2 separate regions of the Homo sapiens genome follow, and region 2 is linked to region 1. Evidence: fine-mapped expression QTL. A gene starts in region 1. The other region holds a variant in brackets. All regions are shown on one strand. Distances are between the middles of the regions. Region 1 holds the start of WNT16 (Wnt family member 16). Region 2 has its middle 29 kb from the start of FAM3C.

The links. PIP is the estimated chance that this variant, and not a neighbour inherited with it, causes the effect. A credible set is the group of variants that fine-mapping cannot tell apart.
Region 2: its variant is the best candidate, but not a certain one, in a credible set for the expression of WNT16 in prefrontal cortex (GTEx, PIP 0.73).

Annotation. Positions count from the first base shown.
Region 1 is chr7:121,316,802-121,332,391 of GRCh38, reverse strand. WNT16 (Wnt family member 16) reads right to left here and starts at 3,392. Exons shown (of 4, transcript NM_057168.2): 1 at 3,005-3,392; 2 at 2,575-2,825; 3 at 428-714. The coding sequence starts at 3,099.
Region 2 is chr7:121,416,623-121,433,354 of GRCh38, reverse strand. No RefSeq gene overlaps it. Among named protein-coding and RNA genes, the nearest start is that of FAM3C, 29 kb to the right of the region's middle. The variant T/G (reference allele first, on the strand shown) is at 9,151.

The sequences.
Region 1 (15,590 bases):
ATACAACCACAAACACATGCTATAACACGGTTTAACTCATATCAGTTAGAGAACCAAAATTGTGGTTAGTATATATTCATGAAAGGGTATATACATATTTGTATAATACACATTTGTAATATATGTGCAAATGTGTATACACACACACACACACGTATATTTATTCTAATCAAAGCCTCCTATTCATCCTCTTACCAGAGAAGGAATTTTTCAATTGCTTACCATGGATGCTTTAACGCATACATATTTAGAAAGGATAATTTTCTATTGCTGTAGTCTTTTAAAAACAATATTAATTTTCAGGATCCCACTTGAGGGCTGCCAGTGTTTGGTTTTTAAGTCATTTGGACAGTTTCATGCAGATGTGTAATCCTAGTTATTTACCTAACAGCACTGGGTTTTGATTATTCCATTTTCTAATACATACCTGCCTTCCAGCTTCATTGTTATGTAGGTTCATTGCTAATAGTACTTTGTTTTCTTTGCCCGTGGTGTTTCCGATGGGGAAATCTAGGAACTTTCTGCTGAACCACATGCCATACTGGACATCATCGGAGCAGCCCCCCCAGTGCCAGCCTTCACTTGCTGAGCCGCCGTTCTGCAAGGTGGTGTCACAGGAACACTCTGTCATGTTGCCTGCACTGCATGACCTGGTCACAGAATGCACCAGGCCTGCAGCCATCACAGCATAAATAAATGCTGTCTCTTTGGTGCCTAGAAAAAATATAAATTGCTAAATTAGAGAACCAGGCAACTTCTGTTTATGTTCAGAAGAAAGCCTCCTACTCATGATCTTACTGGACAAGTAATTTTTCAGTTGCTTACAATGGATGCGTTAACGAGTACATATTTAGAAAGGAAGATTTGCTCTTGTTCTAGTCTCTTAAAAAGCAACATTAATTTTCAGTATTCCACTTGAAGAGATTGTCATATACTGTATGGTCATACATTGTCCCTTTACCTTAAAATCATCTCTTTATTTTTTAAATTTGAAATGTATGTTTGCACCCAGTTCAGTGCACAGTTGACAGTCATAGCTCAGTAATACATGCTGAATTAAAAATTCTTTGCATAGATACTGTAAACGGTAATACAACACCCAAAGAACACTAGATTGCTTTTCTTTTGAAATTTAAAATGTGCTCTCACAGAACACAAGCTGAACATTTTGGTGTGATTTTTGTTTGCATAAATAATACGTGTCAGAATGAAAATTAAAATTAAGGAAAGACCAAAGCAATTAGTAAACGGTACCGTATATTTTCACATTAAAGATTAGTCTCACATTAACATGAAACAGTTAAACATTTTATATAGTATTAGCTACTCCTCTTACAGTCTTAAAGGCAATGAAAGGTAAGATAATTAAAATGTCACTAGCAAAAACATAATTCTATTAAAAATATTGAATATTGAAAATTATGCATTTAGCACACCTGCAGTAGAGTTTGAGCTAAAATCTTTGAAAATTAAAGTCCATTAAAACATTAATAACATGGACTAGAAGGGAATCAGCAGGCGACTTTTTTTTTTTCTTTCCAGATGTTTAGTTTGGAGTAGAAACAGTTTCATGCCCGCTGTCCAATAAACCTTTTCAACAGCTGATGCATTTCAGCAACTGTGAAAAACACATCTATTTTTTTTCTTTCTGTCTCTTTTTTTTTTTTTTTTTTTTTTCTCTCTACGGGGACCAGGGCTCCTTCGGAAGGGCGTGCCGGCCAGAACGCCGCGGGGGAGGTGCGCGGCTCGGCGGGGGTGCGCGCAGGGACTGCGTGGACAAGGGTCAAAGGCGGAGGGGGAACGGAAATGAACATGAAAAACGACAGCGCATCCTTCAGCGCCCCAGTCCTAACATTCTTTGGATCTGTTGATATTCCAGGAACAATCCTGGCTCCCTGTACCTTTATCCTTACCAAGTCACTACGCACGTGGAAGTGGAACTTTGTTTTCCTGCAGCTTCCCGCGCCGCGGGAGTGCGCCGAGGAGGGAAAGATAGAAAAGCCAAAGAAACGAGAAGCGCACAAGTGGTCCTGCTCAGGTTAGCCGCACGTTGGGTGGTCGCGGACAGTCGCTTTAAAAGTCACCATTATTCTGTCAACTCGGTGCTCCTAGGAGCCAATAAAGGTGGGGCTTCGCTGCAATTAGCCACTTGTCCGGGGTTTGGTGCGCAGCGGAGTTGGTTAAATCAAAGCAGATGCGGCAGCCGCATTCCCCGCTGCCGACATCATGTTTCTCCAGCTGGTCACCCACGTAGGGGGGCGCTACGGGGTCCGAGGGGGTCGGCGGGGTAGGAGAATTAGAGTTTTTTTTCCAACTCTGGCGGGGCACCGCAGGAAAGAGGAAGAGCTCCAGCCCCTAGAGCTCCGCTCTGGAACTGGGGAGTCACCTCCCTCCAGGCTCGCACCTGCTCCCCAGGTCTGGCCTTTGTAGCTCTCAATCCCCGTGCACTAAAGGGCTTCTTCTGGAACTTAGAGAGCTACAGGACCACGTAGCACTATTTACTTTATTTGCAGGAACCGGTGGAGGAGTTGTCGCCTTCCGTCCCCCACCAACCCCTAAGGACCCAGGACTCACCGCTGCTCAGCTCGTAGCCAAAGAGGGGGCTGGCGCCCATCGGGGCGGTAGTGGCGGCGGCGGTGATCATGCAGTTCCATCTCTCGTGTCTGAACTGGCTCCCGCACTCCTGAATGCCCAGCCGGGCGCCCTCTCGGATGCTCGGCAGCAGGTACGGTTTCCTCTTGCACAGCTCCTTCTGGCGGCTGTTCAGCGGCAAATTGGCGCAGCCCAGCTTCTCTGGAACCCCGAAGGAGGCAATGCCCAACCACCTGTAAGACACGGCCGCCCGTAGCGTTAAGCCGCTCCCCAATTCCAGATGTTTTCCGAAAAATTAGGTCACTCGTCTAAGGGTCCCCGCCCTTCTCCCCCAGCCTCAGTTGAAAGTTCCCTAGGATTGGGCACCCCTTTTGCCACCTACCCGATGCTTCCCTGCCACCTCCATACTCACATCCAGTTTCCTTGGGCTCCGTAGGGGAACAGCACGAGCAGGGCTGCCCACAGCGCGCACAAGCGGGCCAGTCCCAGGAGCGCCGCCCTGTCCATCGCCCCCGCATGGAGTCCCCCAGCCCAGCCGCTCCTCTTTTGCACCCCCTCCCCAGAGGCCCTTCGGGCCGCAGGTCAGTTGTCCAGCACCAAGTTATCCCTCGCCCTCTTCCTCCTTGCATACAACATTAAAAGGCCAGCAGTGATAGGGACTCTCAGCAGCTTCCCCCTCGTTTGCAGGGAGCTGTAGGAGAGATGGAGAGAGCAGCCTGGGGATCTCCTCCTGCGCAGGGGTGGAGATGTGCAGGAGATGCGGGAGCGCCCCTCGCATTCCTAGGTGAGAAACTTCTGTTGATGTATCCGCGTCTCCATCGCCCCCGGCCTCTCCTCCCATCTCCTCCCCCTGGCCGCGCCTGGAGCCTGATTGGCTGAGCAGCGGCCCCGCATCTCATCATCTCGGGACCTCAGGCTCTTATTGGTGGAGAGCGGCTCCGCGGGGGGCGCTCCGGGCACTGGCCTCAGGGACAGCGTGTCCAGACCTGGGTGTGTCATGACCTTTCCTGCTGTCACAGTCTCCTTAGAACGGGTCGTTGTGGGGTTGATTCAACCCGAAGACTAACAGGACGCTCTGTCTTAGCAACCTTGGGGGAAAGCGTGGGTTTGATGAGTCCCACCCATCCCACCAACATCTGGGTTACCCTCTGGGTGTAGTGGCTGGAAAATGTCACTGACCTTTTTTTCTTCTCCTTCACCTCACAGGAGAATAATCTTTTTGAGTCAGAGTTGGTACCGAACAAATTAACCTTCCAGTCCCCTGCTTGAGGTCCCACTGTCAGGAGACTTTAGAGAGTGGGTGAAGTGCTGTCAGGCTTACAATCACTGTCATTTATGTATGCATTTATTTTGAGCGAAAGAGAAGATTCCAGTCTAGCATCTCATCTGCCATATTTCAATCGTGCTCTGTGATTTCCTTTTCCCTATTTGTCTTATTTCCTGCAGTCCCTGAGAACGCTGTAAGTCCCCTGCAGAAGATGGGGACAAAGAAAGTGAGAGGTTTCTGGAGAGTTCTAGAGTACATGAGAGATGTGCTCTGATCTTTTTCTCCAGTCCTACCTTACGATTCTCATGGTGGGAGGGTCCCTGCCCTTCTCCCCCAACCTCAGTTGAAAGTTCGCTAGGATTGGGCACCCCTTTGCCACCTACCCGATGCGTCCCTGCAGGACAGGGCTACACATGGAAGACACATTTTTAAAAACGTACTTATTAAATACCTGCTGTGTGCCTAGTCCTGTGGGAATTTATAAAGACAAGCTCTCTTCCCACAACTGTACAAATAAACCATACACAAGTGTAAAAGAAAATACGTTTAGATGATCAGTAAGAGAGATTAAAGAATCTAGCAGGGTACTCCCTGGAGCCGAAGATAGTTCAGAAGCAGGAAGTGTTCCAGTTACTGGCAGATTTGGAAGGTTAGTTAATCAGTGTTTTGTAGGATGGAAGGTCTCCGAGAGTTATCTGAAGGCAAGTGCAACGTGTTTAGCTGTGGTATTGGGAAAGCCTGCCTCACCTAATTAGACACAAGAAATGTTTCTAAGAAGCATTATCTGTCCTTAGAGATCTTTTGAAGTGTTAATACATTCCCATGGTGGACGTATCAGCTCAGTGGGTACCCAAAGCCAAAATTACTTAAATAAAGGATTTGGGGCCAGGTGCAGTGGCTCACACCTGTAATCCCAGCACTTTTGGAGGCCAAGATGGGCGGATCACCAGAGGTCAGGAGTTCAAGACCAGCATGGCCAACATGGTGAAACCCTGTCCCTGCTAAAAATACAAAATTATTTGGGTGTGGTGGTGCATGCCTGTAATCCCAGCTACTCGGGAGGCTAAGACAGGAGAATTGCTTGAACCTAGGAGGTGGAGGTTGCAGTGAGTTGAGATAGCGCCACTGCACTCCAGCCTATGGCACACAGTGAGACTCCGACTCAAAAAAAAAAAAAAAAAAAGGATTAGATAGCATTAGCTGCTTATCTCCTATATCAATCAGTGAGCAATAAAAGCTCACTGAAATTTTCATCCTATCCCATTCACTCCCTTATCCAACAAATGTTTATTGAGTGTACACTATGTACCAGGTTCTAAAGCCACATTTTAAAGAGTCGAGGAGTCAAGTTGATGATAGGATGTAGATACTGATCCAGAAATATTTTGGCTAACGGCTAGTGGCCTCTCTGAAAGTCAGAGCCTTCATCCAAGCTCACTTTATTCTGTGAGCTTCTCCAAGAGGGACAATGGCGGATTCATTGCTGTACCCCTGCCATTGGGCCTAGTACATAAGATCCTGTTTTTGAACAAAATTTATTGAGTGAATTAACAATGAGGAACATCCTGAGTGGATATGTAAGAGGCCTAAATGCTGGAACTACAGTTTTTACTTCATTTCAAGGGGAATTGGAAGTGGGGAGGCAATCTCCGGGTTGGGGGTGCTGGACAATATCCATACCTTAGGCTGATTTTAGGGCCAACGGTGGTAGATGTTTTAAAGAGGTGTTTGATTTTTTAAAAAATCAAAAACATATATTGAGTCTCTGTTATGGGTTAGAAAGTGGGGATAGCACTTACTCAAATGATCATGGAATTCACAGTCTACTTGGCAAGACAGACAAGGGAGCATGCAGCTATAATACGTGCAATAAATGTACAAAGTAGAGTGTGCTGTGAACACACAAAGGAAGATTACTTATTTCAGTCTTGGGGATCAGAGTGGGGAGGAGACACTTGAATGTTACCTTCATTATTATTCTGGGAATCTAGCACCATCTACGCATCCAGATAAAGCCTTTGGGGTGCACTCAGAGGGTATTCTGTCCTGAGAGTCAGAGACCACTGTGTCAAACATTTTCAAACACAAGACACAATTTTAGGGCGTGAGTGGTCTTGCATCTCTTTTGTATGGGCTAGAGCCTTAGGGGTCATTCTGTCCATATCTCCAAAACAAAGGAGACATATTTCTAGGAGCTGACCCAGCTGAGGAAGCAGATTTTTCATTCAGTGAACAGATATTTGAATGATAATTTTGTTCCAGGCATTGTGAACTTTCATGTTCTGAGAGCTGCCATACACTCCCAAATCCCTCTTACTGTCTTTATTTGTCTCTCTGTCTCTGTCTCATTCTCCATCTTTCTCTATACAAAATTGATACTCACTTTACAGATGAGGAAATTAATTTGGGGAGATTAAGAAACTTGCTCGAGGTTACTCAAAAACAATCAACCTTTAGAGGCCCCTCCTTTTTTTTTTTTTTTTTTTTTTTTTTTGAGATGAGGTATCATTCTATTGCCCAGGTTGGAGTGTAGTGGCTCTATCATGACTCACTGCAGCCTCAACTCCCAGGCACAAGCGATCCTCACCCTCAGCCTCCTGAGTAGCTGGGACTACAAGTGTGCACCGTTATATTCAGCTGTATTTTTTATTTTGTGTAGAGACAGGGGTCTCACTATGTTGCCCAGACTGGTCTCAAATTCCTGGCTCAAACAATCCTCCTGCCTCAGCCTCCCAAACTGCTGGGATTATAGGCATGATCCATGGCACCTGGCCAAGACCCTGTTTTTTTCACTACAACATACTTCTGCATGCCTAATTCAAAACATATATATAGTGTGTGTGTATAGAGAGAGATATGTTAGGTGTTATATATATATATATGTAAAATTTTTTTTCCCTGATCAAATCCCCAAATCTTAAAACTCAGATTACCGTGTCTTTGGGTCAAAATTTTTTACTGGTGTCTATGGTTCCTTACGTCACAATTCACAGATCTCTCCATTGAAACATTGAAAAAGTTGTTTTGTTCTCCAAAAATAAACAAAACCCACCATAGGGAGGTCTTTTGAGAAGCCCCTGTGAAGAGGGTCTCCCTGAGGCAAGTGGTGAGCTGCATGGGTGCCTTTCCATCTTTCTGGCTTTGCCCTCTGTGGTTTTTGCAGGCTGAGAGGGGCAGTGGAAAGAGCACTGGGTTGGGTTGGGTAACCGGGGCTCCTGTCAGCAGGTGATGATCGTGGACTACTCATTTCAACTTTGAGTCTCAGTTTTTTCATTTGCAAAATTATCAAAATTTCTTTTTCAGATCTGAATCTCTTACTGGAGCTACCATAGGGCTGGAGGGAGGAGAGTGGTACGTGTGTGTGTGTGTGTGTGTGTGTGTGTGTGTGTGTGTGTGTGTGCGCGCGCGCACATGGTGGGGAGGGGGAAACTGCATTTGCTGGGGGACTGCAGGAGGAGGAAACCTTAGCCATTGACAGGAACTTGTCTACCTGAAAGATGGTTCAGTCCCCAAGGTGGCATAAGCCAGGGTTTTTTGGCGCCCATCTTGTCTTAATATCTCCAGCTTCACTTTTGCTTCTGGATTTCAAGGAAAATGAATCTATTTTAATTGCAGAAGTCATTTAAAATGGTTGAATTTTAAAATATAATCTTGTCAGATCACATGAAATTTTATTTGGAGAATATAAGAAGTTACAGATATTTTATCCTGACATATGAAGTTGAGGAGCTCTTTCATAATCGAATTTATGTCTATTAATATAAAGCATTCAACTCTACTCTCATCGGAGGGGATTATGCTATTTAGACTTGATGAATGAAGTAAAAGATCAATTCCAAACATGTATACAACTGCACATTTTAAATTATTGATTTCTTTCTCAGCAAGCAGGAGCTTAATTTCCTATTTATTATATTTTGATTGAAGAGACGACAAAATATTCACTGACCAGTAGAATGTGAGACCTAAAGTTTACTGTACTGTATAAACTTTTTAAGCTTCTAGTGTCCATATGCATAAAATGTTGTAAAGATCATATCATTAATCATTTAATAAACACATAAATGAGAGCTAATATTATGTCATTTCATGATCTGAGCCCAGCTGCCTAGATTTTGACTAGTGATGTTAAGAAAATCACCATATGACTGCAAGTTTGCATTGGTTACTCAAGCACCTGTAGTCTCTGGAGTCCACATAGAGGGCATACACTTAAACTCTTTTTCCTAGCTGGAGGTAAGGTGCTCTGAGCTGTATTCTGGGAAAAGGAATTAGGGAGGGGAGAGCCAGATTTCAAGCATACTCATTTCACTCAAAAGAGCTCTCTCAAGATGCTGAATCTGTGACTGTTATCATCTCCAATCCGCTGAGCCAACTGAACCAGATAAGTAGCTAGACAGCAATAAATCCCATCTTCCGCCCAAGACAGTTGTAGATTTCTAGTTGTAGAATACAGGGGAGCCTCTTCCTTCTGATAGTTTTCTCTCAGTCCCTGGGAAACTCAGCAAAAAAAGTCTGCCTGCAGAGATATGCCTTGGACTCTGCCTCTGGCAGCCCATCAGAGGACGAGACTTCTAAGGGCCCTGTTGTAAGAATTTCTGCTGCAGATCACAGAGACTTATGTGCTGGAAACTGATACCAGAAGCACCCCAGCTGGTCTTAACTCCCATGATAGAACAGAAGACCAGAGGTGACTTTTTACATAACTGGGTCCCCATCCATTCTATTTTAAATTCCACCTGGATGCTACAAGTGTGGAACAGAGCACAGGCTTGTGACCACTGGCTCTTAGGAGGGGGTGGAGAATGGCATTCTGGATAGCCTGCTGTCCTTTAGTGGCCAGAAAAACCCGCAGGAATGACAGACTTGGAGGAACAGAGGAGACACCAGCGATAGTCCCAGGAGAAAGAGCAGGAGTTGGAAAGGGATGATGCTTTGCTTTTTAAATTTCCACAACCACAGAAGTTAAAAGTTTTTTGTTTACTCATCCTAGCAATTAAGGTTGAAGAAGGCTTGTAAAGTGTCAGTAGAAAGTGACTTATCTCTTACCAGCATTTCCCCAGCAATCCTTAAAAAACTTAAAATAAAAAACAGGGTACCTCAAGATTTTTTTAAGTGGTATTTTGTAGGAATTATGCAATTTTTTTGGAATAAGGGAATAAAAGTAAAAACATTCCTTGACAAATAAGAGTGGTCACTTCATTCAGAGGGTAAAAGTAAATAAAATGCACAAAACTGGAATATATTGATAGTTTTGATTCTTTAAATACTTTTTCCCAGTAATTTTTTCCAAATAAAGCAACTTCATTAATGAATGATTTTAATGTTTTAATGTTGTCAGGAAAATTAAGAATCTGGCATTTACATTGTTTAAAGTAATATTTATGGAGTAATCACTAGGCTGCCTATAATGGAAAAAACAAATTTGCCCTTCTTGAGGGATTTTCCTAAGATAGAATAATTAAAACTTCAAGGGGGCCAGGCGTGGTGGCTCACACCTGTAATCCCTTACTTTGGGAGGCTGAGGCAGGAGGATCACTTGAGCCCAGGAGTTTGAGACCAGCCTGTGCAACATAGGGAGACCCCATCTCAACAAATAATTTAAAAATTAGCTGGGTGTGTTGGTGTGCACCTCTGGTCTCAGCTACTTAGAAGGATGAGGCAGGAAGATTGCCTGAGCCCTGGATGTTGAGGCAGCAGAGAGTCATGTTAGCACCATTGCATTCCAGCCTGGGTGATAGAGTGAGACCCAATCTCAAAAACAAACAACTTCAAGAGAAAAGCCATTTAAAATTGACTGCATCTATCCTATTCTATCCGTTGGTCTGCATAATTATAGTTAACGTCATGTCATAAATGTCTTTCAGTCAACAAATGCCTGTCAAAAGTAAACAATTGCTGACACTGCTTTTGTATCCAAGGTCATTTTTCGAATGTCTAACCTTTGGTTACTGTCCTCATTATTAGTGGGAGCAAGTTGAAATGGAGGCTTTTAAGTCTGGCCAAGCAACAAATGCCATTTGGTGTTTACTTATATCTCATTGTTCACATTTAAACTTGACCTTAATATTTTCACTTTCCTCCCTAAAATCTTTAATAATTTATTTACTCCTATATCAGTTTTAAACCCTTTGGTTTGACTTCTAAAATCCTTTATTCAGGATTTGTCCATAACTGTCATTTCTGATTAAATTCACTCTATATCCTTGTACTCATTCTTCCTAAGCAAGACACCTTCTGTCTTCCCTTTTCCATAAGCAGGACCTGCATATTTGTCTTTCAGTTTCTTGAGAAACACTGCGTCTATGCCTAGAAATTTCTTTTCTCTCCTTCCACTTACTCAAACCTATCTACCCATTTTCTAGGTCATACCACTTTTGGAGTTAACCATGTTAACGTCTCTCTCTGCCCAATTCCTATATTACCTGAGGTCCCTACCATAATACTTATCACTTAATTTACTTTTGCTAATGGTCTAACGTACCTTAGTTGTCAGTCACCAATTAGATTATAAAACATCTTTTTTAAAATTATACTTTAAGTTCTGGGATACGTGTGCAGAATGGGCAGGTTTGTTACATAGGTATACACGTGCCAGGGTAGTTTGCTGCACCCATCAACCCATCATCTACATTGGGTATTTCTCCTAATGCTATCCCTCCCCTAACCCCCAAACCCCCATGACATACCCCCTGGTGTATGATGTTCCCCTCCCTGTGTCCATGTGTCTCATTGTTCAATTCCCACTTATGAATGAGAACATGCAGTGTTTGATTTTCTGTTCTTGTGTTAGTTTGCTGAGAATGATGGTTTCCAGCTTCATCCATGTCCCTGCAAAGGACATGAACTCATCCTTTTCTTATGGCTGCATAGTACTTCATAGTGTATATGTGCCACATTTTCTTTATCCAGTCTATCATTGATGGGCATTTGGGTTGGTTCCAAGTCTTTGCTATTGTGAACAGTGCAGCAAAAAACATACGTGTGCATGCATGTGTCTTAACAGTAGAATGATTTATAATCCTTTAGGTATATACCCAGTAATGGGATTGCTGGGTCAAATGGTATTTCTGGTTCTAGATCCTTGAAGGAATTGCCACACTGTCTTCCGCAATGGTTGAACTAATTTACATTCCCACCAACACTGTAAAAGCATTCCTATTTCTCCACATCCTCTCCAGCATCTGTTGTTTCCTGACTCTTTAATGATCTCTATTCTAACTGGTGTGAGATGGTATCTTTCATGCGCGTCCGTGTGAAGAGACCACCAAACAGGCTTTGTGTGAGCAATATGGCTGTTTATTTCACCTGGGTGCAGGCGGGCTGAGTCCAAAAAGAGAGTCAGGAAGGGAGATAGGGATGGGGCCCTTTTATAGGATTTGGGAAGGTAATGGAAAATTACAGTCAAAGGCGGTTGTTCTCTGGTGGGCAGGGGTGGATCTCACAAAGTACATTCTCAAGGGTGGGGAGAATTACAAAGAACCTTCTTAAGGGTGGGGGAGATTACAAAGTACATTGATCAGTTAGGGTGGGGCAGGAACAAATCACAATGGTGGAATGTCATCAGTTAAGGCTGTTTTTACTTCTTTGTGGATCTTCAGTTACTTTAGGCCATCTGGATGTATACATGCAAGTCACAGGGGATGCGATGGCCTGGCCTGGGCTCAGAGGCCTGACATTCCTGCCTTCTTATATTAATAAGACAAGTAAAACAAAATAGTGTTGAAGTGTTGGGGCGGCGAAAATTTTTGGGGGGTGGTATGGAGAGAGAATGGGTGATATTTCCAAGGGCTGCTTCAAGCAGGATTAGGGGCGGCATGGGAACCTAGAGTGGGAGAGATTAAGCTGAAGGGAGGTCTTGTGGCAAGGGGTGATATTGTGGGATTGTTAGAAGAAACATTTATCATATAGAATGATTGGTGATGGCCTGGATACGGTTTTGGATGAATTGAGAAACTAAATGGAATAACAGAAGGAGAAAAACAGGTATAAAAGGTCTAAGAATTGGGACGACTCAGGATATCTGATTAGAGAGTGCCTAAGGAGATTCAGCATAGTCCTGCCAGCAAAGATTATTTATTTACTTCAAGAGTTAAGAGTGGCAGTTTGGGGATAGCGCCAGGAGATATCAGCTGTGATGGCTTGGAAAAACAGTGTAAACCGGCAGTGTAAACAAGAGCAGGGCATGTATGAGTAGTTGAGAACGGTGAATAGGAGTATGACTAGACTGAAGATAGTAGGGATGACAAGTTTTTTTGGGCACAGTCTAAGTTGGTCTGGTGTCTGGAATGAGACTGGGGCCTAATAAAAAGGAGCGTCTATACAGGAGCTTAAATGGGCTGTACCCTGTAGCATTCCAAAGACAGGCCTGAATTCTGAGAAGGGAAAGTGGTAAAAGTATTGTCCAGTCCTTTTTAAGTTGGTGGCTGAGCTTGGTGAGGTGTGTTTTTAAAAGACCTTTAGTCCATTCTACTTTTCTTGAAGACGGAGGACCATAAGGGATATAAAGGTTTCACTGAATACTAAGAGCCTGAAAAACTGCTTGGCTGATTTTACTAATAAAGGCTCACCTGTTATCAGACTGTATTGAGGTGGGAAGGCTAAACTGAGGAATTATGTCTGACAGAAGGGAAGAAATGACTGCGGTGGCCTTCTCAGACCCTATAGGAAAGGCCTCTACCTATCCAGTGAAAGTGTCTACCTAGACTAAGAGGTATTTTAGTTATCTGACTCAGGGCATGTTGAGTAAAGCTAATTTGCCAGTCCTGGGCGGGGCAAATCCTCGAGCTTGATGTGTAGGGAAGGGAGGGGGGCCTGAATAATCCCTGAGGAGTAGTAGAATAGCAGATGGAACACTGAGAAGTTATTTCCTTGAGGATAGATTTCCACAATGGAAAGGAAATGAGAGGTTCTAAGAGGCGAGTTAGTGGCTTGTACTATAGCATAACCTGCCTTTGCTGGTGTGTGGTGATTAGGCCTGGTGGAACCGCCATCAATAAATCAAGCGTGATCAGGGTGAGGAACAGGAAAGAAGGAAATTTGGGGAAATGGGGTGAATGTCAGGTGGATCAGAGAGATACAGTAATGGGGGTCAGGTGTGGTATCAGGAATAATGTGAGAGGCCGGATTGAAGTCTGGGCCAGGAACAACGGTAATTGTGGGAGACTCAACAAAGAGTGAGTATACCTGAAGGAGCCGGGAAGCAGAAAGCATATGCGTCAGGTATGAGGAAGAAAATAGATTTTGGAAGTTATGAGAACTGTAGAGAGTGAGTTGAGCATAGTTTGTGATTTTGAGGGCCTCTAAAAGTATTAAAGCAGTGGCAGCCACTGCATGCAGACATGAGGGCTAGGCTAAAACAGTAAGGTCAAGTTGTTTGGACAGAAAGGCTACAGGGTGTGGTCCTGGCTCTTGTGTAAGAATTCTGACCATGCTAACCATGCCTAGGAAGGAAAGGAGTTGTTGTTTTGTAGAAGGTGCTTGAGTTTGAGAGATCAGTCGGACCCAATTGGCAGGGAGAGCACATGTGTTTTTATGAGAATTATGTCGAGATAGGTAACAGATGAGGAAGAAATTTGGGCTTGATTGAAGTAATGGGGGCTGTCTGTGAAGCTTTGTGGCAGTACAGCCTAGGTAATTTGCTGAGCTTGATGGGTGTCAGGGTCAGTCCAAGTGAAAGCGAAGAGAGGCTGGGATTAAGGGTGCAAAGGAATAGTAAAGAAAGCATGTTTGAGATCTAGAACAGAATAATGGGTTGTAGAGGCAGGTATTGAGGATAGGAGAGTATATAGGTTTGGCACCATGGAGTGGCTAGGCAAAACAATTTGGTTGATAAGGCACAGATCCTGAACTAACTTGTAAGGCTTGTCTGGTTTTAGGACAGGTAAAATGGGGGAATTGTAAGGAGAGTTTATAGGCTTTAAAAGGCCATGCTGTAGCAGGCTTTAATCTTTTTAAAGCGTGCTGCGGGATGGGATATTGGCGTTGAGTGGGGTAAGGGTGATTAGGTTTTAATGAGATGGTAAGGGGTACATGATCGGTCGCCAAGGAGGGAGTAGAGGTATCTTATACTTGTGGGTTAAGGTGGGGGGATACAAGAGGAGGACGCAAAGGAGGCTTTGGATTGGAAAGAAGGGCGGCAATGAGATATAGCTGTAGTCCAGGAATAGTCAGGGAAGCAGATAATTTAGTTAAAGTGTCTCAGCCTAATAAGGGAACTGGGCAGGTGGGGATAACTAAAAAGGAGTGCTTAAAAGAGTACTGTCTAAGTTGGCACCAGAGTTGGGGAGTTTTAAGAGGTTTAGAAGCCTGGCCATCAATACCCACAACAGTTATGGAGGCAAGGGAAACAGGCCCTTGAAAAGAAGGTAATGTGGAGTGGGTAGCCTCCGTATTGATTAAGAAGGGGACGGACTTACCTTCCACTGTGAGAGTTACCCAAAGCTCGGTGTCCGTGATGGTCTACGGGGCTTCCGAGGCAATCGGGCAGCATCAGTCTTCAGCCACTAAGCCGAGAAGGAGTCGGTCAGAAAGCCTTGGGCCAGAGTTCCAGGGGCTCTGGGAGTGTCTGCCAGGTGAGTTGAACAGTCCGATTTCCAGTGGGGTCCCGCAAAGATGGGACACGGCTTAGGAGGAATCCTGGGCTGCAGGCATTCCTTGGCCTGGTGGTCAGATAGATTTCTGGCACTTGTAGCAAGCTCCTGGGGGAGGAGGTTCTGGAGGAACGCCTGGCTGCTGCGGTTCAGGCGTTTGGAAGTTCTTGTGTGCTGGAGATGTGGCTGGGGTTTGTCTCACAGTGGAGGCAAGGAATTGCAACTTTTTTCTATTATTGTACACCTTGAAGGCGAGGTTAATTAAATCCTGTTGTGGGGTTTGAGGGCCGGAATTTAATTTTTGGAGTTTTATTTAATGTCGGGAGCAGATTGGGTAATAAAATGTATTTTGAGAATAAGACGGCCTTTTGACCTTTTAGGGTCTAGGGCTGTAAAGAGTCTCAGGGTTGCTGCCAAACGAGCAATGAACTGGGCTGGGTTTTTATATTTGATGAAAAACAGCCTAAACACTATCTCATTTGGGATAAAGAAAAAGGAGCATTAATGTTGACTATACCTTTGGCTCCAGCCACCTTTTTAAGAATAAATTGCTGGGAAGGTGGACTAGGGCTAGTCACAGAACGAAACTGTAAGCCAGACCAGGTGTGAGGAGGGGAAGCGATCAAAAGATTACAGGGTGGAGGAGCGGAGGCTGAGGAAGAATTGGGACCTAGCTTGGGCTGGAGAGGAGGGGAGAGGTCAGATGGGTCTGTAGAAAAGGAAGATTAGAAAGACTCAGCGATGCTTGGGGTTGGGACTGAGGGGACAGGCGGGAGGGAAAGAAGGAAGATTTGGGACGAGTTGCACTGGGCACAGAGACTAGGAAGGGACTGATGTGTAAAAGAATGCCTGGACGTCAGGCACCTCAGACCATTTGCCCATTTTATGACAAGAATTATTTAGATCTTGTAGGATGGAAAAATTGAAAGTGCCGTTTTCCAGCTATTTGGAACTACTGTCGAGTTTGTATTGGGGTCAAGCGGCATTGCAGAAGAAAATAAGGCATTTAGGTTTTAGGTCAGGTGTAAGCTGAAGAGGTTTTAAGTTCTTGAGCACACAGGCTAAGGGAGAAGAAGGAGGAATGGAGGGTGGAAGGTTGCCCATACTGAAGGAAGCAAACCCAGAGAAAAGAGAGCGTA
Region 2 (16,732 bases), 100 kb before region 1:
GAAGAGATAAACCTCTTTATTTCTAAACAAGAATCCCTCCACTCTTTCTCCTATATTGCAAAGTCCAATCCTTCTATTTTCCCTGATTTTTGATTGCTTCTTTTTTCTCTTACAGTTTCAATTCCTTCTTCTCTGTAGATACCTTTTTAAAAACAGGCTCTCATCTCTCTGCCCCAATAAACGCATTAAAAAAAAAAAGACAAAAACAAAACCAAAAAATAAAATAAAATAAAAACAAGGTTGATCCCACTATTTATTTTATTTATCAAACCATTTCTCCCACTGTTAAACTCATGAAATGAGTGATGTATGCCTGGTAATTCTCTCCTTCTACTCCTTACTCCAAAATGTACCAGTTTTATAACCTACCAAAACTGCCCTTGCAGATATTATGATCTCCTTTTCTTCTTTTCAAATCCTAAAAAAATTTTTCTATTATCTTCTGATCCAAAAATTCTGCAGAATTTTATTGTGTAGAAGACTCTTTTCCTTGCATGTCTCTCTCCTCTGGAGTTTCATGTTTGTTCTGTTCTTCCTTCTCTGATCACTGCCTTTCTACTTCATCTCTTCCTACATCTAACCTCCAAACAGAAAGTCCTATCAAAATACTTGTTTTTGTTTTTGTTTTGTTTTGACAAGGACTGGCCGCCATGCCTGACTAATTTTTGTATTTTTAGTAGAGACGGGGTTTTACCATGTTGGCCAGGCTTGTCTTGAACTCCTGGCCTCAAATGATCCACCTGAAACGGCCTCCCAAAGTGCTGGGATTACAGGCATGTGCCACCACGCCCAGAACTTTTTTTTTTCTTTTTTCTTTTTTTTTCTTTTCTTTTCTTTTTTTTTTTTTTTTTGTATCTTCAACACTTCTGCAAGTTCTCCCAATCTCAGTCTCAGATAGCAAATCTATTTGGATAACTCTCAATCCAACATCTCTGGTATGTAAATCGTGCCTGTAATCTAGATTATATTTTAAATGCTTAAGAATAGCTATGTTTTGATTATTCAAAAGCCAAGGACTTTGATAAGATTACTCAAATACAGGATGAGAAAAGAAAACTGTCCAGAATCAAATGCTGAAGCACTTAAACAAGTAAAGATTGAGTAGATATGAAGGAGCCATCAAAGGAGACGAAGGAACCAACCATGAGGCAAGACAAAAGCTGAGAAAAAGGAAGTGTCCCAGAAGCCAAGAGAAGCACAAATGAGGGAGAAAGCAGACCTGTTCAATGCAAGAAAAAGTCAATACACTGGGATAGAGAGGGGGCCACTGGAGTTGTAAACACCGAGGTTTCCACAGTAGTGGTGGGCAGGAGAGAAGCCAGACTTGAGTGAGTGGAAGAATTTGTGGGTGGCAAGGAAAGGGAGAGAGCAAGAGAGGCAAACTCTTTAGAGAAGTTTTGCAGGTAAATCAGACTGGGTGAGAGATTTGGGGATGAAGGTAGTTTTTTTGTGTATTTAGTATATGGCAGATACTAGAGAATGTGTGCATGCTGGTTGGAATACCCAGAGAAACAGAGAGAGAGAGAGACACTGGTATTGCAACAAGGTAAGAGATAACTGAAGGATCAAAGTTCTTGAGAAGGAAAAAGAATGAACCCACAGCTCGGTTGACATAGGCCCTTGAAAGCAAGTTGAATACAGTTCTCATTGTAACAGGAAAGATATAGTGAAGACACGTTCAATTACTAATAGAATTATAGATTTTGTGGTGGAGAAACTAATAAAATTTTCTGCTAGTTTCCATTTCTCTTGAGTAAAACAGTGATGTCATTATCCAAAGTGAAGAGAAGTTGAGGAGGGTTGGGGAGATTTGAAGAAAAAGAAATCAGAGTATGGGAAAGAAGACAGAAAAGTAAGACTGTAGGATGGCACTGAGAATCCATGTGAGGTGTGTGGTTATGTTCTTATGATGAAACCAGCTTCTTGGTGTGATTTTGTCCTGCAAAATTCAAGATAAATAGATAGGTAAAGTGTAATAGTGTAAATATCATTGTGTAGGAGTTCAGGGAAGGCCTCTCAGACAATTCTAGCAGACCTATAAGAAGTGAGGCTAGTTTCCAAGGATTCTATATAGAGCATACAATAAGTGCAAATCCCTTAGGTGGGAACATGCTTCCCATTAGTTCCAGAAATATTCAGGAACTCAGTGTAACTGGAACACAGTTTTAGAAGGTGAGTGGTGAGAGACAAGATGGTGTAGAGCAGATTTTCAGAGTCTTAAATTAAAATATATATATATATAAAGAGAGAGAGTTTTACTTATAGTGAAGTGCCCACATATTAATTATACAGCTTAATAAATACTTATCTCTCCATATATATCTACATATACACACACATTTATATATTTTATACATATATTTACACACCCAGATATATTACATATACCCATGTAAACATAACCTAGGTCAAAATATGGGGCATTTCTGGCATTCCAAATGGCTATCTTGTGCAAGGATGAGAATTTTGAATTGTATTTCTGGGTAAGATTTGAAGCTACTAAAGGAAGTGGCACCATCTGACTGATTTTTAAAAGGATTACTCTGAGTGCCACACAAAAAATATACTGATGACATTGCAACATCTGAGCAAGAGATAAAGGTAGCTTGGACCAAGTGAGTGGTGGGGAAGGTTGTAAGAAGTGGTCAGATTCTGATTATGTTTTGAAAATAATGTTCCCATGTTTTATGATGGCCCGAATCTGAGCTGTAAGATAAAGAGAAAAGTAAAGGATGACTAAGAGATTTGTGGCCTGAACAATCAATGGAGCTGCCATTTAGTGAGAGGAAGAACCAGAGGAGGGGAATGTTTGGAACATAACTAGAGGAATCAATAGTTATGTTTTGGTTATATTAGCTTGAAATAGAGACTAGACATTTAATCAGAAATATCTAGTGGAGGCCAGACATGGTGGCTCACGCCTGTAATCCCAACAGTTTGGGAGGCTCAGGCAGGAGAATTGCTTGGGCCCAGGAGTTCGAGACTAGCCTAGGCAACGTAGTGAGATCTTGTCTGTACAAAAATAAATAAATCAAATTAAATTAAAATTATCTGGGCATGGAGGAGGCTGAGGTGGGAAGATTTCCTGAGCCTGAGAGGTAGAGGCTGCAGTGAGCTGTGATGGTTGCACTCCACTCTAGTCTGGGCGACAGACCAAGGCCCAATCTTGAAAAGAGAAGAAGAAGAGGAAGAGGAAGAAGAAAGAAGAAAGAAGAAAGAACAAAGAAGAAAGAAGAAATACAATAATGGTGTGTCCCAGAAGCCAAGTGAAGAGGGTGTCTCAAGAAGGATAAATGATCTATGGCATCAGGTGCTGCTGAGAGCTCAAGAAAGATGAGGAATGAGAACTGGCCATTGGATTTGGCAATGTGTAAATAATTGATTACAACATCACTTACTACTGACATTTCTTACCCTCCAGTAATTTCTCCCTTCATTCATATTGTGTTTGTGTGTGTGGGGGGGGGAGGGGTGTTATTTTTCCTCTTAACTGATACTTGATTAAAGAATGGTAATTTTGCTCTTTAAATGGGTGCTTATCCTACATACCTAACTTCTCATCACTGTTTAAGAATAGGTAATTTTTTGTTTCCCTTTTTCTCACCCTTATAGGTGTAAGTTTGGACAAGTGATTTAAGGAAAATGATGGGTAAAAAAAAAAAAGAAATCTAGGCAAATAGGAATAAGCCTTTCACAAGGCATATCTAAGAAGGTTGAAAGTATTATTTGAAGGAATGTATGCCATCTGAAAAAAAAGTCTAGTAGAGAAACAGCAGGGAATAAGATGGTACAGATGTCAGTTTAAAATTAATACAAAATAAAGCCATTGTCATAATTACCTCAACACAATTTAGGACCCCAGTTTGGAGATTTTTATTCCTATGAAACAGTTATTAGTGTTACTCACATATTTCCAATTCTCTGGTTTGTAGCTATATGCAACAACTGCATTCCCCACCTCTTTTTAAAGTTAGACATGCCCATGCTACTTGTTATGGCCAATGAAATGTGAGTAGAAGTGACCTGTGTCACTTCCATTTGATAATTTTGCAGAGTAATGCATGATTTCCCTGTTTTCTTGCCATACTGATGGCCTTCAGTAGCCTGGATTCCTGAGTAATTATGATAAACAAAGCCATCCATCTGACTTTTAGTGGAGATATAGTATGAATGAAAAATAAACTTGCACATTTTAAAATTCATTATATTTCACTTATTTATTGTCTTTTAGCGACAGGGTCTTGCTCTGTCACGCAGACTGGAATGCAGTGGTGCAATCATGGCTCACTGAAGCATTGCATTCCTGATCACAAGCTATCCTCCTACCTCAGCTTCCAGAGTAGCTATGACTACAGACACACACCACTATGGCAGCTAATTTTTAAATTTTTTTGTAGAGGCAGAGGTCTTCCTATGTTGCCCGGGCTGGTCTTAAACTCCTGGACTCAAGCGATCCTTCCTCCTCAGTGTTCCAAAGTGCTGGGATCACAGGCACTGTGTTCAGCCAATTTTTGCCTTTTTAAGCAGCTAAAATTTTGGGGTTGCTTGCCTCTCTAAAAAGATCTAGCCCATCCTAACACATACTATTAAATTAATCTTTGATTAAGAAGTTTACATGTTTTCATCACCTGGAGAGATTTACAGTAACAGAAAAAGTAAAATCTAAACAAATAACTGTTTACTTGTTGGGTTTTGGGTGTCCATAGAAAATATGTTTGGGGGTAGTAAGATCTTGATATTCTACTCTACAAGCAGTTCCTAATAGGAGAAAGAACAAAATCAAATAAATAATGGTTCTCTCAAGTTTCATCTACCACTTCATCCTTGCCTGGAAAGGAGTAAATACATGTTGCGCTTTATGTTATACGTGACCGACAAAGTGCTAAATATTTTTGGAAGGCTTTATGAGATAAAATTTACATAACATAAAATTATCCATCTTGATTATTTTAAAGTGTCTTATTCAGTGGTCTTTAGCATATTCACTATGTTAGGCAAGCATCTCTGCTGTCTAATTTCAGAACATTTTCATTACCCCAAAATGATAAGCTGTACCCATTAAGCAGTCACTTCCCCTCTTCCTTCCTTCAGCTTCTGGCAACCACTGATCTATTTTCTGTTCTGTGGGTTTGCCTATTCCAGATATTTAATATTAATGAAATTGAACAATATGTGGCCTTTTGTGTCTCACTGCTTTTACTTTGCATAATGTTTTAGAGGTTCATTCATTCCATTTTATGGATATATCACATTTTGTTTATCCATTCAGCAATTGACAGAAATTTGGGTTGTTTACACTTTTTGTCTATTATGAATAGTGCTACAGTGAACCTTTGTGTCTAAGTTTTTGTGTGAATATATGTCTTCATTCTCTTATTTGTTTGGGGAACCACAAAACTCTTTTCCACAGCTGCTGTACTATTACATTTCCACCAGCAATGTATAAAGTTCCAATTTCTCCACTTAAAAAAAAAATTATAGCCATTTAGTAAGTGTGAAGAGGTATCTCATTGCAGTTTGGCTTTGCATTTTCCTAATTGTTAATAATGTTAAGCATCTTTGGCCCAGTGTGGTGGCTCACATTTATAATCCCAGCACTTTGGGAGGCTAAAGCGGGAGGATTGCTTGAGCCCTGGAGTTTGAGACAAGCCTGGGCAACATGACAAGATCCTGTCTCTACAACAAAAAGAAAAAAAAATGTTTAAAAATCTTCCCATGTGCTTATTGGCCATTTCTACATCTTCTTTCTAGAAATAGCTATTCAAACTTTTGCCCATGTCAGCTTCAATTGTTTGCCTTTATGTTGTTGAGTTATGAAAGTTTTTTTAGTATATCTTTTGCATATTAGACTCTAATAAAATGTATAGTTTGCAAATATGCTCTTACATTCTCTGGGTCGTTTTTTTTTTTTTTTTTCCATTTTCTTGGCAGTGTCCCTTGACACACAAAATTATTTAATTTTGATGAAATCAAAATTTTCTCTTTTGATATTTGTGCATTTGGTGTTATATTTAATAAAATATTGCCTAACCCAAGGTTACAAAGTTTTGTCCCTCTGTTTCCTTCTAAGAGGTTTTTACTTAGCTCTTACATGTAAGTATTTGATCCATTTGGGGCTTTTTTTTTTTTTTTTTTGAGACAGAGTCTCACTCTGTCACCCAGGCTGGAGTGCAGTAGTGGTGCGAACTTGGCTCACTGCAACCTCTGCCTCCCAGGTTCAAGCCATCTCCTGCCTCAGTCTCCCGAGTAGCTGGGATTACAGGCGCTTACCACCATGCCTAGCTAATTTTTGTATTTTTAGTAGAGATGGGTTTCACCATGTTGGCCAGGCTTGTCTCGAACTCCTCACCTCAAGTCATCCGCCTGCCTCGGCCTCCCAAAGTGCTGGAATTAATTTGTGTATATGGTATCAATAGGAATCCAAATTCATTATTTCACATGTGGTTATCAATCTGTCCAGCATCATTTGTTAAAAAGACTATTCTTTCTCCATTGAATGGTCTTGGTATATTTGTCAAAAATCTCTTGACCATAGGTAAATGAATGTACCCCTGGACTCAGTTTGATTCCCTTAATTTATGTGTCCATCCACAACCCAGCACCACACTGTTTTGATTATTACAGACTTGTAGTACATTTCGAAATTCACTCCCTAATCGGGTTCTGGGCTGAAAATGGAATGCACAACTATGATGCTCTGTTTTTAAATAGAGTCCCCTCTTCAAGTCAGATTATCATTTAACCCCTTTATATCCATCCACTGCAGTGTGGGCTGGTAATGTGTAATTCATCTCTGCTTTGTGCAGTTCTTTTCTGTACCGGTTGTGTTTTTTAACCTATCTTAGCTTGGGCAACCATAATAAAATACCATAGACTGGCTTAAACAACAGGAATTTATTTTTCACAGTTCTGGAGACTGTGTAATCCAAGATCAATGTGCCAGACAATTTGGCTCCCTAGAAAGGGCTCTATTCCTGTCCTGCAGACAGCGACCTACTTGCTCTGTCCTCACGTGACAAAAAAGAGAGTTCTAGTCTTTCTTCCTCCTCTTATAAAAACATTGTTTAAATGGTAAGTTGAGTAATAGTCACATTTTAAAGAGTTTATTTGAGCAAACAATTCATGAATTGGGAAGCTCCAAATCAGAAGTGGACTGGGAGCTCCACCAAGGGAATGCAAGAGAGAGGCTTTTACAGAAAAAAATACGGAGGTAAAAAAAATAAAATATTTAATTGGTTACAGTTATTCAGTTGCCTTATTAGGTCTATCTTGTTCCTAGTTACATAATTATAGGTTTGTTTTCCGTTTCTGAATGGTTAGTGCTTAAATTCTGTTTTTCTTTAATAGAGGCATTTACAAGAAATAGCTCAAGCTAAGTTTTGCTTATGTTTGAAAATCAAGCAAGGTTGAAGTCACTCATGAGGCCTCACTGGTTAAGTCTGCTCAGAGAATCTTCAGGCCTGGTTTCCATTTAAATTTACTTTAATATCAATAATCCTATCACGGAGGTCCATGCTGACAACCTCATCTATACCTAATCACCTCCTCAAGGCCCCACTTCCAGATATCACATTGATGGCGAAGTCTTCACTACACAAATTTTGGTGGAACAAAAACATTCAGTCTATAACATTACCTATCACTTCAACAGAAGGTGGTAAAATATGAGAGGGATACAATTCTGTAGTTTTATAAATTCAGAGTGATTGTTAACAGCTCCTATGGGACAAAAATAAAAAGAGTGTAGGTTGGGAAAAATATAGATCTACCCACAGTTTGGCAAGAATTTTGACTGCTGCTTCTTCCCAAGTGGTGATAATAACCAGCTCAGAATTAATTAGATTTAATAGATTAAAAAATTTGCCTAGCAAAAGAACCCTCTTCTATTAGGAGTTTCTTGTTTCACATTCTAATGGCATACCCTTTTAGTTGTTGATTTAAATTTTGTAAAAACTGGAGAAGTAGTCAAGACCCTTAAAATGTATACTGAGTTTTAATTTCAAGTTATTTGGTTTAATTAATAGAGACAATCTCTCTTTTATTTTATTAAGCTTATTTTATTAAACTATTCAGTGTTCCACATTTTTGACATCGTAAAAAATTAGTAAGGGACAATAAATATTTAAGTTCTCCAATTTTAGAATTGTTTATGTTATAATTTGAATACATAAATACTAGTGATTTTGACATATTTATACATTAAGGTTGATAAATCATTTTATTTTTCTCCTTTTAAAATAATTGTTTACCCAATGAAATCAACCTGAGAAAAAGCATCCAGATCTTTTCTGAAATATCAAACCACACTTATGCTAAGTTTGTTTGTATAGTACTTGTTGATTTTAAAATATTGGAGTTGATGGCTAATTGTCTACCAACATCTATTCTCCTTATTTCATAACAGTAGAGTTATGTCTGTCACAGCCCCATCCTGCTAGAGATGATCAGACTCCCCTGCTGCTGGATATGTCCAAGTGACATAATGTATTCCACTTGCTTAAAGAGAAGGATTTCCCCTCCACTTCTCATGTTCCCCTAACCTGTAATCTGGACCATGCAGATGAGAGAAAGCCTAGAGCAGAGCAGCTGGCTAGAAGGAGCCCAAGACCCTGAATGACAGATCTTATGGACCACAACTGCCCACCTGTCTAAACTACCACCTTCCTTTAATCTGTTGCATGAGAGAAAAATAAGTCATTATACCATTTCACCCTATGTAATATAGACACTATAGAACAAATGCACTCTATTTAATGTTACATGTCTTGATTTTGTGGAAGAAACACAGGAATATGTGGTATTTTTTTCTTCTCTTATTGAGTTTCTAATTCAATGTAAAAAACTAATACAGGAGAGAAAATTTGGACAATGAAATACTTCACCTAATTAGTACAGAACATTAATACTTATAGCGAAATAATTGGATTAGTTAAAGAAGTTTATGGTGATTGAAGAAACATCTTGAAATATGGGTAAAAACATTTTCAAAAGACAAGAACAAGAAGAAGTCCTTTCAAATTTACAGAAGTAAATGTATTGGGGCAGAAATAGTATATTACATGAAGAAAATAAGATGAAATTGGATGATTGGCATGTATGTTTCACCATGTGAGAAAAGAGTGAGTATGTTAGGGCAGCTTATGCAGAAAT[T/G]TAGGTTCTTAATCAATAAAATGATACAATGGTAAGAAAACCAGATCAGCATGGGAAGAGAATGGAAGCAAGGATGACCCCTTAAGCTATAACCTAAACCCTAGAGTGTGATAAAATAATTTTAAAGAGAAAACAGAGATTACAAAGATTATAAAGAGACAGAACAGAAAACAAGATATACTTGCTCACAGAAGATGCATTTGCAAAAGTCTAAACCTATATGAAAAAGTTTTCACAAAGCATTTTTACTCTGTATCAATAATGCAACTAGCAGTGATAATCAGGATGAAATTACTTAGGACATCATTCTTTTCCATTTACTATCATTGTTACTGACTTTTTTTTTTTTTCTTTTTTTTTTCTGAGACGGAGTCTGGAGTCTGGCTCTGTCGCCCAGGCTGGAGTGCAGTGGCGCGATCTCTGCTCACTGCAAGCTCTGCTTCCCGGGGTTCACGCCATTCTCCTGCCTCAGCCTCCCCAGTAGCTGGGACTACAGGTGCCCGCCGCCACGCCCGGCTAATTTTTTGTATTTTTAGTAGAGACGGGGTTTCACCGGGGTTTCAGGATGATCTTGAGCTCCTGACCTCGTGATCCGCCCGCCTCGGCCTCCCAAAGTGCTGGGATTACAGGCGTGAGCCACCGCGCCCTGCCCTTACTGACATTCTTAGCAACAAACTTTCTGTCATCATGGGAACCTAAGCATGACTTATAGTAGTATTAGCTTAGTTGTTTCATATGATAATATTTTATAATCTTAGTAAACTTGCTTGCAAATAAAATGTGACATAGAAAGGGCTCATATATTTTTCGCTGAACTGAATTAGAAACTGCACAATATTTCTATTGCAAAATTTCCTACATATGTATGGCATACATGGTGATGAAGATGGCCTCTCATGAGATAACAGGCCTTTATAGAGTATTTAAATAATTTAATAATTTAGAATAAAGCCTTCAAGAAGTGACTGTGCCCTCACCTACAATTGTACTTTCTTTGTTGAAATACTTATGCTCCAGGGAAGAGGTTATACTAATCATGGTAGTGCTCCCTTGATTCATTTTTTGAACAAATTGTGTCCGGAATTGGTGGGTTCTTGGTCTCACTGACTTCAAGAAGGAAGTCGAGGACCCTCGCGGTGAGTGTTACAGTTCTTAAAGGTGGCATGTCCGGAGTTCATTCCTTCTGATGCTCGGATGTGTTTGGAGTTTCTTCCTTCTGGTGGGGTTCGTAGTCTCGCGGGCTCAGGAGTGAAGCTGTGGACCTCAGCGGTGAGTGTTACAGCTCTTAAGGCCTCGCATCTGGAGTTGTTCTTTCCTCCCGGTGGGTTTGTGGTCTCGCTGGCTTCAGGAGTGAAGCTGCAGACCTTCATGGTGAGTGTTACAGCTCATAAAGGCAGCGTGGACCCAAAGAGTTAGCAGCAGCAAGATTTATTGCAAAGAGCGAAAGAACAAAGCTTCCACAGTGTGGAAGGGGACCGGAGCAGGTTGCCACTGCTGGCTCGGGCAGCCTGCTTTTATTCTCTTATCTGGCCCCACCCACATCCTGCTGATTGGTCCATTTTACAGAGAGCCGAGTGGTCTGATTGGTGCATTTACAATCCCTGAGCTAGACACAAAGGTTCTCCACCTCCCCACTAGATTAGCTAGATACAGAGTGTAGACACAGAAGTTCTCCAAGTCCCCACCAGAGTAGGTAGATACAGTGTGTCGATTGGTGCATTCACAAACCCTGAGCTAGACACAGGGTGCTGACTGGTGTGTTTACAAACCTTGAGCTAGGTACAGAGTGCCCATTGGTGTATTTACAATCCCTTAGCTAGACATAAAGGTTCTCCAAGTCCCCACCAGAGTAGCTGGATACAGAGTGTCCATTGGTGCATTCACAAACCCTGAGCTAGACACAGGGTGCTGATTGCTGTGTTTACAAACCTTGAGCTAGATACAGAGTGCCGATTGGTGTACTTACAATCCCTTAGCTAGACATAAAGGTTCTCCAAGTCCTCACCAGAGTCAGGAGCCCAGCTGGCTTCACCCAGTGGATCCCGCACTGGGGCCACAGGTGGAGCTGCCTGCCAGTCCCGCGCCATGCACCCACACTCCTCAGCCCTTGGGTGGTCGATGGGACTGGGCACCGTGGAGCAGGGGGCGGTGCTTGTCCGGGAGGCTCAGGCCACACCGGAGCCCACGGAAGCGGGGAGGCTCAGGCATGGCTGGCTGCAGTTCCCAAGCCCTGCCCCATGGGGAGGCAGCTAAGGGCCGGCAAGAAATTGAGCGCAGCGCCGGTGGGCTGGCACTGCTGGGGGACCCAGTACACCCTCCACAGCTGCTGGCCTGGGTGCTAAGCTCCTCATTGCCCTGGCCAGCAGGGCCAGTGGGCCGTTCCAAGTGTGGTGCCCGCCAAGCCCACGCCCACCCGGAACTCCAGCTGGCCCACAAGCAGGGTGTGCAGCCCTAGTTCTTGCTTGCGCCTCTCTGGTTCCCGCTTGCGTATCTTCCTCCACACCTCCCTGCAAGCTGAGTGAGCCAGCTCTGGCCCTGGCCAGCCCAGAAACAGGTTCCCACAGTGCAGTGGTGGGCTGAAGGGCTCCTCAAGTTCTGCGAAAGTGGGAGCCCAGGCAGAGGAGGTGCCCAGAGCAAGCGAGGGCTGCGAGGGCTGCCAGCACACTGTCATCTCTCAAAATGTTCACTAAGTGCTACCGGGTGGTAGGCATTGCTCTAGGTCCTAAGGAAAGAGTATTTGAACAAGCTCCTTGCTCTCATGGAGCTTAAATTCTCATAGCAGAGATAAACAATAAATAAGTAAAAAAAATCAGTGACATGACCTTACTATTTGTACAATGAAGAAAGTAAAGTAAGAGGCTACTGAATATCGAAGTAGGGAGGTCGGGTAAAGCCTTCCTACTGAGAAGTGGTCAGAGAACTGAATGATGAGATAAAGCAGCCATGCAGTATCTGCGGAGAGAAAATTCCAGGTAAAGATAACAACAGGTATAAGTCCATGAGGCAAGAACCAGCCTAGCAGGTTGAAGAACAAGAAGGCAAAATGACTAAGCACAGTAAACAGGGGGGAGGAATAAATGAGGTCAGGGAGATAGGAAAGTGCCTGATTATATTGGGCTATATAAGCCTTGGTCAGGAGTTTGGATAGAACAGAAATTAATTATATGTATATTATAGAAAATAAATATGGTTGTGGTTGGTATCATAATCTGCAGCTCAACTTAGAACAGAAGTACTTAAACGGGACACTACAACTACACTTAAAGCTTCCAGTAAGTTTTTCAATGGTCCCATCTTTGACATAAGCTACACCAAGTGTCACCAGGCACCTGAGGAGAGCACTAGAAGAAAGTCAGAAATCCAAGCAAATACAAACAAAGAAGGGGACAGTGCAAAAGCATGAAAATTGCTATTTTTGTTCTTATTTATTTATTTATTTTTCAACTGGCCAAGTCAATATGTATTAAAAAACACACAAACACATGCACAGTGGTAACAAAATAGAGACAGGGAAAGGAGACTCTACATCTCCTATCTGGGGACAGGCTGACCACATAGCATTTCTACAGGGCACGCCTCACTTTAAGAAAGAAGGTATCTTCAAGACCAGATTGACAAGCTAGATAAATGGATAAATCTTTGTTTTTGTGAGAGAACTATATATATATATATATTTTTTTTTTTTGTCAGAGTCTTGCTCTGTCGCCCAGGCTGGAGTGCAGTGGCATGATCTTGGCTCATTGCAACCTTCGCCTCCTGGGCTCAAGCAATTCTCCTGCCTCATCCTCCCAAGTAATGGGACTACAGGCAAGTGCCACCAAACTCGGCTCATTTTTTTATTTTTAGTAGAAATGGGATTTCACCACGTTGGCCAGGCTGGTCTTGAACTCCTGACCTCAGGTGATCCACCTGCCTTGGCCTCCCAAGTGCTGGGATTGCAGGCTGAGCCACCATGCCCAGCCTGTAAGAGCACTTAAGGCAGCTTCACTACTCTGAGGAATAGGAAGTAGAAGAGATTTATGCAGGAGTATTCACAAACCCCTCCAGTTGTGCTAAGAGGGCTCATGAGTACCTGACATGGTTCTGGAAGCAAGAAAGGAGAGAACAGATTTTCCTTGAGACTGCTTTCCTTTCCCAGAAGAGGAGGAATGTTCTCCAAGGAAGACTGGAGAAAGAGGCTCCTCCCAGGAGCTCAGGGAACCAGCTTCTTGGGAAAGCAGGACCAAAGTGCAGGCCCGTGTTGGTGCCTGCCAGCCTGGCAGGACTTTGGCACAGGAACACAGGTCCAGAGCCTTGCCTAGGGTCACTGGTCCTCCTTTCTATAGAGCTCCATAAGGTCCAGAGACTGTTGCCTCATCAGATAGCTACATCTGTGGCTTGGGTTACACGTGAGATCTTGTAGGACAGCCATATGCTTGTCATGCAGGAAAGGTGGCAACAAAATCAAAGATATACAGGGGAGAGAGAGGAGAGAAAGTTACAGGCCAAAGGCCTATCACTTGGGCAATTCTTTCTGTTTCTCAACTCTGTGCTCATTCCCTGTATGTCTGTGGCCAGCAAGGAGCTTGGGTAGTCATCTGACCCAATCACCTCATCCTCACTCAGGTACAGAGGTGAAGCCCAGAGAGGCCCAGCCGCCAGCCTCGGGTTCCCTAGGTTGGGTCCAGGGCAGGCCAGGCCACCAAGCCTCTGGGTCACCACCCTCGGCCCTTCTCACTCAAGGCAGCTTCAATGCCCACGTGTGGGTTTATATTTACAACTGAGTTGGCTGGACTTTGATTATCCACTCCTGCTATCAGTCCAGTTCTAGTTATAAAGCTTGGAGGCCACCATGATGGAGGTGATTAGGAGGAGCAGGGTAGTGATTAAATAGTGCAAAGTTCTGATAGGGGCCAGCAGATATAGGTGAGCATGCAGAACAGGTGGATCAGAAAAAATGGTACTGATTAAATAGTGCAGAAGTTCTGACAAGGGCCAACAGATACAGGTGAGCAGGCAGAAGAGGTGGATCAGAAAAAATGGTGAGGATCATTATCAAGTTGAAAATGGTGACCACTTCAAAGTAGCTGTAAGTGCTGTAGTCAGTCTACAGAGAGCTCTGAACACAGATGAAGGCAATCAACAGGATGACCTTGTCATTTTCTAGTAGTGGTGAACTCAAGAAGAGGCCCAAGGCAGGGGAAGCTGTTCTCCAATGGAACAGCCTTTGCAATGATTTCCTAAGTCCCTTGAAAGACACAGTCTGCCAAAACTCACAGGAGAAATAGATAATCTGGATAGGCTTAAATTTATTAAATAAACTGAATCAATAATAATCTTCCAAAACAGAGAGCACCAGACCCAGAGGGTTCGCAGGTGAATTTTACTAAACATTTAAGGAAGAAATTCTAACAATTCTCCAAAATCTCTTTTAGAAGATAGAAGCAGAGGGAATACCTGTTAATTCACTCTATGAGACAAGTGTTGCCCTAATACCAAAACTTGACAAAGGCATTATGAGAAAAGAGAACTACAGACCAATAGTTCTCATGAATATTGATGTGAAAATCTTTAGCAAAATATTAGCAATTTAAATCCAACAGTGTATAATATATATGTGTATATACATAATGTGTATATATATACATAATGTGTACATATATACACATTATATATATGTATATTATATATCTATATATAGGTGTTAGATGTCTTAAATAGGTGTCATAAATAGGTGTTAGATTTTCTCAAACGTTTTTTCTTCATCTATTGATAAAGACTGAGCTGCAGATTATGATACCATGTAATTTTTCTTCTTTAGCCTGTTGATGTGACAGATACATTAATTTTTTAATGTTGAACCAGAATTGCATTCTTGGGAAAACCCCTATTTGGCTGTAGTGTGTGTGTGTGTGTTTGTGTATCTATATATCTAGATATAGGTATATCTATATCTATCTATATCTATATCTATCTATATACTTATATCTATCTGTATCTCTATATCTATCTATCTATATATCTATCTACACACACACACACACACACACACACACACACACACACACTACAACCAAATAACACATAACACCTATTTATGATTTAAGAGAAACTTAGCAAACTAGCAATACAGAGGAACTTCGTCAACTCGATTGAAAAAATATAAAAGCCCTACAGTTAACATCATATTCAATGGTGAGAAAACTTGAAGCTTCCTGATAAGATCAGGAACAAGGCAAGGATGCCCCTGTCACCAGTTCTTTTCAGCATTGTACTGGAAGGCCTAACTAATGCGATAAAATTAAATAAATGGTATACAAATGAAATAAAAAGTATACAGATTGGAAGGGAAGAAACACTTTGTTCACAGATAACACAATCATTTGTAGAAAATCTGAAAAAATCACAAAAAAAAAAACGCTCCTGGAACAAATAGACATTTATAGCAAGGTTTCAGGATAAAAGGTTATGTATAAAAGTCAAGTGCTTTCCTATGTACCAGCAATGAACAAGTGGGATTTAAAATTAAAAACTAATTACTATTTACATTAGCACCCTTAAAAATGAAATACTTAGGTATAAAATGAACAAAATGTGTACAAGATGTATGAGAAAAACTATGAAACACTGATGAAATAAATAAAAACTTTAATAAATGTAGAGACGTTCCATGTTTGTGATACAAAGATTCAATATTGTCAAGATACCAGTTTTTTCCCCAGCTTATCTGTAGATTCAATGCAATCTCAATATCAGCAAGTTATCTTGTGGATATTGACAAATGTATTCTAAAGTTTATATGGAGAGGTAAAAGACCCAGAATAGGCAACTCAATCTTAAAGGAGAAGAACTGAGTCAAGGAACTGACAGTTTAAAATTTACCATAAAGTAACAGTATTAAGGCAGTGTGGTATTGGAGAGACAAATAGATCAGTTGAACAGAATGGAGAATCCAGAAATAGACCCACATAAATATAGTCACCTAATCTTTGGAAAAAAAAAAAGCAAAAGCAATACAACAGAGTAAAGATAGGTTTTTGAAAACAGTGATGGAACAACTATATCCATATGCAAAATCAAAATAAAAAATAAAAAGTCAACCTTCTAGACACAAACCTTACATTCTTCACCAAAACAAACTCAAAATGGATCATAGACTTAAATGTAAAACACAAAACTATAAACTCTTAAAAGATAACAGGAGAAAATCTAGATGACCTTGGAGGTGGTGGTGACTTTTTATATACAACACCTAAACAATACATTAAAGAAAGAATTAAAGTTAAAGAATTAAAATTAACTTCTTCATTAAAATGAAGAACTTCTACTCTGTGAAAACACTGACAAGAGAATGAGAAGACAAGTCACAGACAAGGAAAAAAATTTACAAAAGACATATCATATCTGAAAAGAACTATTATCCAAAACAAGCAAAGAGGTCTTAACTCAATAATAAGAAAACCTGATTGAAACATGGCCAAAAGACCTGAAAAGATAGCTCATCCAAGAAGATATTAAAGTGGCAAATAAGCATATGAAAAGATGTTCAACATCAGATGTCATTAGGGAATTTCAAATTAAGATGACAATGAGATACCACTAC